Regions from separate parts of the Homo sapiens genome. Here region 2 is linked to region 1. The links come from fine-mapping of genetic effects on gene expression. A gene starts in region 1. The other region holds a variant in brackets. All regions are shown on one strand. Distances are from middle to middle. Region 1 holds the start of ZYG11B (zyg-11 family member B, cell cycle regulator). Region 2 overlaps ZYG11B (zyg-11 family member B, cell cycle regulator).

The links.
Region 2: its variant is fine-mapped to the expression of ZYG11B in monocytes after R848 (Quach 2016, PIP 0.95).

The regions. Positions count from the first base shown.
Region 1 is chr1:52,724,281-52,729,656 of GRCh38, forward strand. ZYG11B (zyg-11 family member B, cell cycle regulator) reads left to right here and starts at 2,173. Exons shown (of 14, transcript NM_024646.3): 1 at 2,173-2,403. The coding sequence starts at 2,374. RefSeq lists a silencer at 1,984-2,563.
Region 2 is chr1:52,808,620-52,813,995 of GRCh38, forward strand. It overlaps ZYG11B (zyg-11 family member B, cell cycle regulator), which reads left to right. Exons shown (of 14, transcript NM_024646.3): 11 at 4,917-5,114; 12 at 5,241-5,293. Among named protein-coding and RNA genes, the nearest start is that of ZYG11A, 31 kb to the right of the region's middle. The variant A/AGAG (reference allele first, on the strand shown) is at 2,432.

The DNA of each region.
Region 1 (5,376 bases):
GTAGTCAAATTCATAGAGATAGAAAGCAGAACAGTGATGGCGAGGGATTGGGGGAAGTTAGGAATGGGGAGTTATTGTTTAATGAGTACAAGCTTTCAGCTTTGCAAGATAAAAAAGTTCTGGAGGCCTGGCACATTGGCTCACGTCTGTAATCCTAGCACTTTAGAAGTCTGTGGCAGGAGGATTACTTGAGCCTAGGAGTTTGAGACAAACCTGGGCAACACAGTGAGACCTTGTCTCTACAAAAAAAAAAAAAAAAAAAGGTAGCCAGGCGTGGTGGTATGTGCCTGTAGTTCTAGCTGCTTAGGAGGCTGAGGTGGGAGGATCGCTTCAGCCCAGGAGTTTGAGGCTGAGTGAGCCGTGATTGTGCCACTGTACTCCTGATGGGTGACAGGGTAAGAACTTGTCTCAATAAATAAATAAATAAATAAATAAAAGAAAAAATAAAAAGTTCTGGAGCTTCTTGATGGGGATGGTTGCACAACAATGTGAATGTATTTAATACCATTGAACTGTACACTTTAAAATGGTTAAGCAGGTTTAAAAAATCTGGGCTTGCATTTTGGATGCTTGTTTTTAAATTTTAATTTTTTCTAGTAATTAATTTTGATTGTATTTTACAGAAATTTAGTTTTGTGATTGGGGATAAAATCTGGGTCTTTTAGCACAGATGCTTGAGAACTGAGGAGGATTTGATGTTAGCTAAAAGACAAATAATTAACTTGTAGTAAGGAAAGGAAGGCAGAGAGAGCATCAAAGCAGAGTTACAGGTTCGTTGGAAGTCATGGTGGGTGCTGGGAACTTGTAGATGTTCTTTTTGGTTTGTTTGATTTTCTTGTGAATTAGAAGCAAAATCATCAGCTAAATGAGATGAGGGAGGAAGTGTCGGAGGTTTGAAGAGACAGGAGACTTGAAATAGTTATGTAGCAAGGTGGGAGAGTGTGTGAAACTGGAGAAATGTGGTAGGGTAGCCACTCATTATGGCCTCTTGAGAATAATGATCTCAAATTTACGGGGAGTCAGTCAACCACTTTTGGCTTTTTCTCCACCCACTCCATTGCTGGAGTTCTGTCAGTACAAAGAAAGCAGAGAACGACTAGAGAAATGAAGGTAATACTGAAGAAATCGACTTCATGTACCTCATGTACTCACTTTCTTCCCCAAACAGCTTAGATTCTATTAGATTCCATTTCATGACGGACGATAGAATCTAAGCTGTTTCAGGAAGAAAGTGAGTACATAAGGCCAGCGTGGGGAGGAATAGCGAAAAGGTAGTTGGATCAATGGATTTGGGGTCTTGGAGTTGAAGTTTTTGGAGTTGGAGTATTATCAGACAGAGTGAGCTAGAAAGGAAGAAGGTTGTGGCCGGGCGCAGCGGCTCACGCCTGTAATCCCAGCACTTTGGAAGGCCAAGGCAAGCGGATCACCTGAGGTCAGGAGTTCGAGACCAGCCTGGCCAACATGGTGAAGCCACTTCTCTACTAAAAATACAAAAATTAGCCGGGTGTGGTGCCGGGTGTTTGTAATCCCAGCTACTCGGGAGGCTAAGGCAGGAGAATCACTTGAACCCGGGAGGTGGAGGTTGCAGTGAGCCAAGATCGCACCACTGCACTCCAGCCTGGGCAACAAGAGCGAAACTCCATCTCAAAAAAAAAAAAAAAAAAGAAAGAAAGAAAGAAAGAAAGAAAGGAAGAAGGTTGCAATGGGAGTTAGAGGATTAAAATTGAGATTGTAGAGAAGTTACAATTATTCGTATGAGCATGAGAGTGAGAGGCTGAGCCAAGAATGATCCCTAGAGAAGAATCTGAGAGGCCAGAGGATTGGAAGAATTAAGCGAATTTTGAAATAACCAAGAGTTATGACAATAGTAGTAATGAATGACAGTGAACCAGAAGCCCAAATCTTAGAGAATGATGGTGAATGACAGAGGAGTCTATAGGTGACCGAAGTGAGCGATGCTCTAATCTCTCGTCATGATGTAATATTTAAAGCTTTTCATATTTTGAAGGGATGCTAGGATTTGGGGGTGTGTGGCTCCTTTAAGGGCCTGGGAGGGGGAGAAGCTGGAGGTCGGGCTGGGGGGGGCGGGACCCCCTCGTCTGAGTCTGCGCATTGAGAGCGGAGGCGGGTCCAGGCGCGGGCTCGCGCGCCCGGGCGGGTCCTCGCGGGGGCGGAGTCTGCGCTCTGGTTCGGGCTGCGGCTGCGGCTGCGGCTGCGGCTGCTACTGCTACGCTCCTAGCTTGAGGGAAAGAGGCCGAGGCCTGGGCCAAGCCCGGAGCCGCCGCTCGCCGGAGCCTCCTGGAGCCTCCGCGCCGGCTCAGCCTGGGGGCGGGCTCCGGTCCGGCCCGCCGCCGCACCCAGGACGGAGGCTGCATGCCCGAGGACCAGGCCGGCGCAGCCATGGTGAGGGAGCAAGGCCTGCCCTAGCCGCAGCCGCCCGCCACCCTAGCCCCCGCCCGTCGCGCTGGCCCCTGCGGTCTTGCCCCTCCCTGTCTCTGGTGTCCCCTCGGGCTCCCTGCCTTTACCTCTCTCCCTCGTTACCGCCCCCTCGGTGTTCAGCTCCTCCTTCCCCATTCACCTGCTTCGGTGAACCCCTTTAGGTGACACCCCCTGAATCTCCCTTCTCCCCGATGACATCCTTTTTATCACCCCCAGTGACAGCCTTTTTCGCATTCCCTTTGTCGCCCACTCCTTGTCCTTTAACCCTAACCCTTCCTTTCTTTCTCCTCTATCATTTTGCCTTTTTTCCTCTTATGTGATTTTTACTTTCCCCCCTTTCCTCCCTAGTTTTCGCTGCTCTTCCTTGCTCTTCTCACCCCTCTTCACCATTTTATCTCCACTGCCCCCTTCTCTCCGTGTTCCTTCTCCCCTTCGTCCTCTTCCATCCACGTTTCCTCTTCCCTTATCGGATGTCCTCGCTCGGTTCGCCGTCGCAGCTGTCCCCATTTCCTTCTACGGGCTTCAGGGGTCTAAGCAGGAACAATTTGAGGACTGTTGCTTCCCGGGAGCTGTAGGGCGGGCAGATAGGGATTTATAGGTTTGCTTCTTCCTTTTCGTTTTTGGAGGCATTGAAGAGATCCTGGAAGCCTATTCACCTAGTGTCATTGCAAAATCGAAGTGGTGGTGTGTTACAGAGCAGTGAAGTGAGGGCCAGCATGCATACTGTGACCTCAGGAGAGATCTAGTCTTTTGACAGAAATAGCTAAAAAATGTTTTGAATTTTTTTTATTTTGAGCATCTTTTAATGTGGAGGTGCAGTTGGAGAAGTTTAAAAATACTTATTTACAAGCTTGGCTATTATTACTAAAAACAAATGATTTGTTTTCATTTGGAGGCAGAGACCAAGGGCATTTGAGGACTGACAATCAGGTTGGCAGGTTGTGACAGTCTCTTTAAACCTTCTAAAGAGTTCATTTGTTTTGCCCTGTCTGCCTTTAGTTGGGAGAACCTTATATTTGCAAATTTTCTTTCTGTCTGAAAATAGGTTGAGGCTTCAGTTGGTTTTTTCATTGAGTTGGGTTATAAGTGGTTTGCTGTACATTTATTGAAAACATTGCTCCATCATATGCAACAAGCTAAATTTTGGTCTCTGGGAGGAATAAGGCAAAACTAAGTCCTGATAATTATGTTCCCCTAGGAGGTTAGTCAGTTTCTTTTTTTCCCTCCAGCAGTTTTTTAGAAAAGTAATATACTATAAAATTATTTAATCTATGAATTTTCCCTAACTCACTCCTGCATTTTTAGTCTGTCATTTTCCTGTGTTTGTCTCCTTCACTTTCACACACTGTTGTTGTATGCTAACCTGTTTCTCCCTGTGGAATGTAAGTTCTAGGTAGCAACCGTTCCTTACTTATTATTCCAAGTGCCCAGGCCAGCTAGGTGCTTGAATGATTCACTTTATGGTCTCATTTCCCACCTGACTAATATAAACTTAAACTGAAATTTGAGGTAACTAGTGGACTACACAGAAAGAGTGAGTTTGAGAATTGTTGTTTGGAGACGATCTTGCTCTGTGGCCCAGGCTGGAATGCAGTGGCACAATCATGGCTCTTTGCAACCTTGAACTCCTGAGGTCAAGTGATCTTCCCACCTCAGCCTCACAAGTAGCTGGTACCACAGGCACGGACTACCGTGCCCCGCTAATTTGTAAAACTTTTTGTAGAAATGGAGTCTTGCTGTGTTGCCCAGTCTGGTCTTGACCTCCTGGATTCAAGCCATCCTCCCACCTTGGCCTCCCAAAGTGCTAGAATTACAGGCATGAGCCATCACGCCTGGGCAGAGAATCTTAATTTTGATGCAAAAATGATATTGAGTGAGGTATGATGATATACTTTTCAGAATAAAGAGCTATCCTACCTAAGACATTACACTGCTAGATTTTTGAAAGTGTGGGCCCTTCCATTGAGAATGAATGTATGAGAGGGAGGAGTTATGAACTCCCCTTTGAGGTATTTAGGATCTAAAAGTGTCCTTTGAGCTGGGCCTGAAAGTTGAATAGGATTTATATAGATCATTTTGGGAAGGGGAAGAATGCCTCATTGTGAATGTGAGTAGCAAGTAGAAAGGATCCCCTCACAGGGATTTTTTTTTTTTTAAGAAAGAAAGTAGGAAGGAATTAGGATGCATTGTAGGAAGTAGTATTACCCTTATATAGCATGGAAGGATGCAAGAATGGAGATGTGTAGTAGGAAATGAGGCTAGCAAGATACTGTCTTAGCCCATTCAATCTACTGTAACAAAATACCATAAACTAGGTAGCTTGTCAGCAACAGAAATTTATTTCTCAGAGTTTGGAAGGCTGGGAAGTCCAAAATCAGTTCCCCAGTGGATTCAGTGTCTCGTGAGGGCTCTTCCTAAGTCACCTTTTCACTGTTTTCACACATGGTGGCAGGGGCCAGGCAGCTCTCTGGAGTCTCTTTTATAAGGGCACTAATCCCATTCATGTGGGCACTAACTGGTGATCTAATCACCTCCCAAAGGCCCCACCTCCTCATACCATTACCTTGGGGGTTAGGATTCCAACATATGAATTTAGGGAGACAGAATTCAGACCACAGCAGACATATTAGGCATGATTATGTTTTAAACTTTGCATCTAATTAACTTGATTTTTCCTTGCTTGTTAAAACATATACACACAGAGTAACAGTGTATGTATGGGAGAGGTGAGGAGAAGGCAGAATATTAGCTTATTTTGAGCTAGGAATTATCAGTAGAGGCCACTTTCTCGTGCAATATTTTTGTAGATAATAAATACAGTTGAATGAATGATTATTATAAAGCTTTGTATTTTATATTTGTTAAATGTTAATTAGGTTGTGTTTGAATAGTTGAGATGTTTAAGATGTCAGGAGTTCGAGACCAGCCTGGCCAACA
Region 2 (5,376 bases), 84 kb after region 1:
CCTCCCAAAGTGCTGGGCTTACAGGAGTAAGCCACTGTGACCTGCCCATTTCCCTAAAATAAATTTTGCAGCCCTTTTCCCCATATTGGAGTCCTTTGGAGACGCTAATTTGCACATGTTAAGCTGCTTGACATTGTCCCACATGTTACTGATGCTCTTTAATGTTTTTGTTCTTTTGTATTCTGTGTGTTTCAGTTTGGATAGTTTCCCTTGCTATGCCTTCAGTTCAATATTTTTTTTCATCTGCAATATCTAATCTGCTACAATGCCATCTGGTAGATTTTTTCATCTTAGACATTGTCATTTTCATCTCTACAAGTTCAATTTAGGTGTTTTTTGTATCTTCCGTGTTACTACTTTTTGAATATATGAAATAAAATTTTAATAACTCTTTTAATATCCTAATCGGCTAGTTTTATTTAGTATCTGTGTCAGTTCAGGGTCAATTTCAAGTGATTATTCTCCTCATTATGAATTATGTTTTCCTGATACTTGGCATGCTTAGGTTTTAATTTACTTTTTAAAAAATTTATTATGTTTTAAATTGTGGTAAACAACGTAAAATTTACCATCTTAACCATTTTTAAGTGTATTGTTCAGTGGTATTAAATACTTTTATAATGTTGTAGAACCATCACTACCACTCATCTCTGTAACTGTTTTCATCTTGTAAAACTGAACGTCTGTAACCATTAAACAATACTATTCCATTCCCCCATTCTGCAGGCCCTGGTAACCACCATTCTATTTTCTGTCTCTATGATTTTAACTCCTTAACTACTTCATGTAAGTGGAATCATACAGGTGATCCGCTTGCCTCTGCCTCCCAAAGTGCTGGATTACAGGTGTGAGCCACCGCGCCCGGCCACAAATATCTCTTTTAAGACTCTACTTTGAATTTTATGGGGTATAGTTCCAGAAATAGAATTACTGTATCATGATAATTCTATTTTTAAATTTTGAGAAACTACCATACTGTTTACCACAACAGCTCTACTGTTTTACATTCCCACCAACAGTGTCCAAGGGTTCCGATTTCTCCACATTCTCACCGCTTGTTATTTTCCTTTTTTTTTAATAGTAGCCATTCTAATGGGTCTGAGACAGTATCTTGTAGTTTTTGTTTGCATTTCTCTGATGATAAGTGGTGTTGAGTATATTTGTATGGGTTTATTGGCCATTTGTATGTCTTCTTCGGAGAAATATCTATTCAATTCCTTTGCCCATTTTTAAATTGGGTTGTTTGTGTTTTTGTTGTTGTATTTTAGGAGTTCTCTATATATTCTGGATATTAATCCCTTATCAGATATATGTCTTGCAAATGTTTTCTCCCATTCTGCTTGGTAGTTTTTGATTGAATGCCAGACATTGTGAATTTTTACCTTCTTGGTTGCTGAATATTTTTGTTTTTCTATGAATATTCTTGAACTTTGTTCTGGGATGCAGTTAACTTACTTTTAAACATTTTGATCACTTTGATCACTTGCTTTTTATGATTTATTAGGAGGTTCCAGAGCAGTGGTCAGGCTATGGCTAATTATTCTCTGCTACTGAAACAAGACCTTCCTGAGGACTCTACCCAGTGCCTTGTGAATGAAAGGTTTTTCCATACTGGGTGATGAGAATATGTGAGAACATGCACTATTCCTGGCCCTCTGTGAGCACTATGCACTTTTCTCTAACTCTTTAGATGGTTATTTTCCTGCCCTCAGCTTCCTTGTGTTCATTTTATTATCATTACTCTGCTGAATAGAGTGGGACTCTACAGATGGCTGGACTCACTTTATGTGCAAATTCCCTTCTCCCTGGTGTTCTGTCCTGTGAGTTACCTTCATCTCTGTGGACTGTTCACCTCATCTCCTACTCCATTCAGTCTACTGAGCTCTGCTTCAGGTCTGTATCCCTGTGCTACAGCCTGGAAACTTTAAAGGCAATAGCTCACTTTGTTTTCCATCCAGTAAAGGACACTGAGAGTCACTGTCCTTTATTGCTTGTGACCAGTATCTTGAGAACTGTTTTTCCATATTTATTTGGATTTTTTAGTTGTTTCAGGCAGATGTGTAAATCTGTTTTTACTCCACCTTGGCCAGAAGCAGGAGTGCTCATCATTCCTCAATTTAAAAACAAGAAATTGGCTGGGCAGGGTGGCTCACACCTGTAATCCCAACACTTTAGGAGGCCAAGGCGGGCGGATCACCTGAGGTCAGGAGTTCAAGACCAGCCTGGCCAACATGGCGAAACCCTGTATCTACTAAAAATATAAAAATTAGCTGGCCATGGTGGTGGCTGCCTGTAATCCCAACTACTCAGAGGCTGAGGCAGGAGAATCACTTGAATCAAGGAGGCGGAAGTTGCAGTGAGCTGAGATCCTGCCATTGCACTCCAGCCTGAGCGACCGAGCAAGGCTCCGTCTCAAAAAAAAAAAAAAAAA[A/AGAG]AGAGAAATTTATCTTTCATATTTACTCACATTTCTCATTCTATTCTTTTCTTACATTTATTATCCTATAGGTGTGCTAGCAATGACTTCTCACTCACGTGTTGTTTACCTAACAAAGTTTTTTATTTTGCTTTGATTTTTTGAATGATAAATTTTTGGTTGGCTATTGAAGTCTAAGTGGACAATTTTTTTCTGTTGAATCTTTGGGTTTATAATTTTTATCACATTTTGCAAAAATTTGGCCATTATTTCTGCAAATACCTTTTTTCATACCCTCTCTAATCTCTGCTTCTTCTATGACTTCAGTTATAAGCATGTTAGACTTCTCGACATTATCCCACAGGTCCCAGAACTCCACTATTGGCTTTTTTCCCCAGTCTGATTTTTTCTTCTGTGCTTTGATTTGGATGGTTTCTATTTCTTTTTGTGTGTGTGAATAGAGACAGGGTCTCCCTATGTTGCCCAGGTTGGTTTTGAACTCCTGGCCTGAAGTGATCCTCCCACCTCAACCTCCTGTGCTGGGATTACAGGTGTAAATCAGCATGCCCTGCCATGGATGCTTTTTATTTCTCTGTTGTTTAGTCCACTGATTGTTTTTCCGGAAGCATCTCATCTGCTGTTAATCTCATCCAATATATTTTGCTTTTCAGATACTTAGTTTTGTTTTTTTTTTAATTTCTATAATTTACATTTAGGTTGGCCAGGCGCGGTGGCGCATGCCTGTAATCCCAGCACTTTGGGAGGCCAAGGCGGGCGGATCACGAGGTCAGGAAATTGAGACCATCCTGGCTAACATGGTGAAACCCCGTCTCTACTAAAAATACAAAAAAATTAGCCAGGCATGGTAGCGGTTGCCTGTAGCCCCAGGTACCCGGGAGGCTGAGGCGGGAGAATGGTGTGAACCTGGGAGGCGGAGCTTGCAGTGAGCTGAGATCGCGCCACTGCACTCCAGCCTGGGCGAGAGCGAGACTCCATCTAAAAAAAAAAAAATTTACATTTAGGTCTTTCTTATGTCTTCATTTTCTCCCTTCATGTTTATGTCTGAATTATATTTATAATATTTATAATAGCTGCTTTAAGTCCTTGTCTGCTAATTCTATTATCTCTGTTATTTTTTAGTCCATTTCTTTGGATTGATTTTTCTCCTGGTTATGAATCATATTTTTCTGCCCCTTTGTATGCCTGGTAATTTTTTTATTGGATGCCGGTCCTTGTGAAATGTAACTTGGTGATTGCTAGGTTTTATTATTTTTCTCTAAAGAGTCTTATACTTTGTTCTTGCATGCAGTTACTTGCAGATCAAGTTGCTCTTCTTGAAGCTTGTTTATGTGTTATTTTATTTTATTTTATTTTTATTATTATTTCTTTGTGAGACGGAGTCTCGCTCTGTTGCCCAGGCTGGAGTGCAGTGATACGATTTCCACTCACTGCAGCCTCCACCTCCCAGGTTCAAGCAATTCTCCTGCCTCAGCCTCCCGAGTAGCTGGGATTACAGGCACATGACACCACGCCCAGCTAATTTTTCTATTTTTTTAGTAGAGATGGGGTTTCTCCATGTTGGCCAGGCTGGTCTCGAACTCCTGACCTCAGGTGATCTGCCTGCCTCAGCCTCCCAAAGTGATGGGATTACAGGCATGAACCACCATGCTTGGCTGTTTTGGGTTTGTTTGTTTGTTTGTTTGTTTGTTTGTTTTGAGATGGCATCTCACTCTGTCTCCCAGGCTGGAGTGCAGTGGTGGGATCTCAGCTCACTGTAACCTCTGCCTCCCGGGTTTAGGTGACTCTCGTGCCTCAGCCTCCCAAGTAGCTGAGATTACAGGCATGCACCACCACACCTGGCTAATTTTTGTGTATTTAGTAGAGACGGGCTTTCTCCATGTTGGCCAGGCTTGTCTTAAACTCCCAACCTCTCAGGTATGAGCCACCACACCCAGCCCTATTTATTTGTTTTGTTAGAGTGGCGTCTTATCAGACTTTACCCTACGGTTCATATATAATTTAGCCCTACTACTATCAAATACTTTGCTTATTATAAGGTCTCTTGAGTCTGGCTAGTGGAAATGTGAACTACTCCTATCCCTGTGTGACTTTAGGATTTATTCATATACTACTTTCTGGTAGTTCTTTCCCTAGCCTCCTGGAGTTTCACCCTTGTCATTACTGAGCCAGAGATTTGGGGTACAGGTCATGTGTGCTCTGTCTCTGAGTGTGGAGCTTTGTCCTTTCCAGCACTCTGTTCTACAGAGTTTTGCTGCTTGACCACCCTAAACTATGATCTCTGTTTCAACAAAACTGCTACTTTGTCTTTGGCTTACTCTTACCTTCATTGCAGTCTGTAAACTGCCCTCATTTGAATACTTTCTCTCAGGGAAATACTTTTCTTTCACCTTCCTGAATTGCCTGTTATCCAGGGCCTAAAAACAGTTATCTTAACCATTTACTATACATATTACATTAATTTTTATATTTTCTTTTTTTTTTCCAGAACAATATAGCTGAAGTACAAGAATTACATTCTGAATTAATGTGGAAAGATTTTATAGACCACATCAGTAGTCTCCTACACAGTGTGGAAGTGGAAGTCAGTTACTTTGCAGCTGGAATTATTGCCCATTTAATATCCAGAGGTGAACAAGCTTGGACATTGAGTCGTAGCCAGAGGAATTCTCTGCTGGATGATTTGGTAGGGTCATTCCATACCAACAAAAGACATTCATAGTGGTTAAACTATCAAAGCCTCATAATGTAGTAAATAATGCAGTGCTAAATAAATATTGTAATCCTTTCTTGTGTGTCTTTTGTCTTCCAGCATTCAGCTATTTTGAAATGGCCAACTCCAGAGTGTGAGATGGTAGCATACAGGTAATTAGTATCATAATTAACAGTAAACCAGCAACCTAGTCTAGAGATCATTCCTAAGAGTCATTCCTACTAGATGCATAATT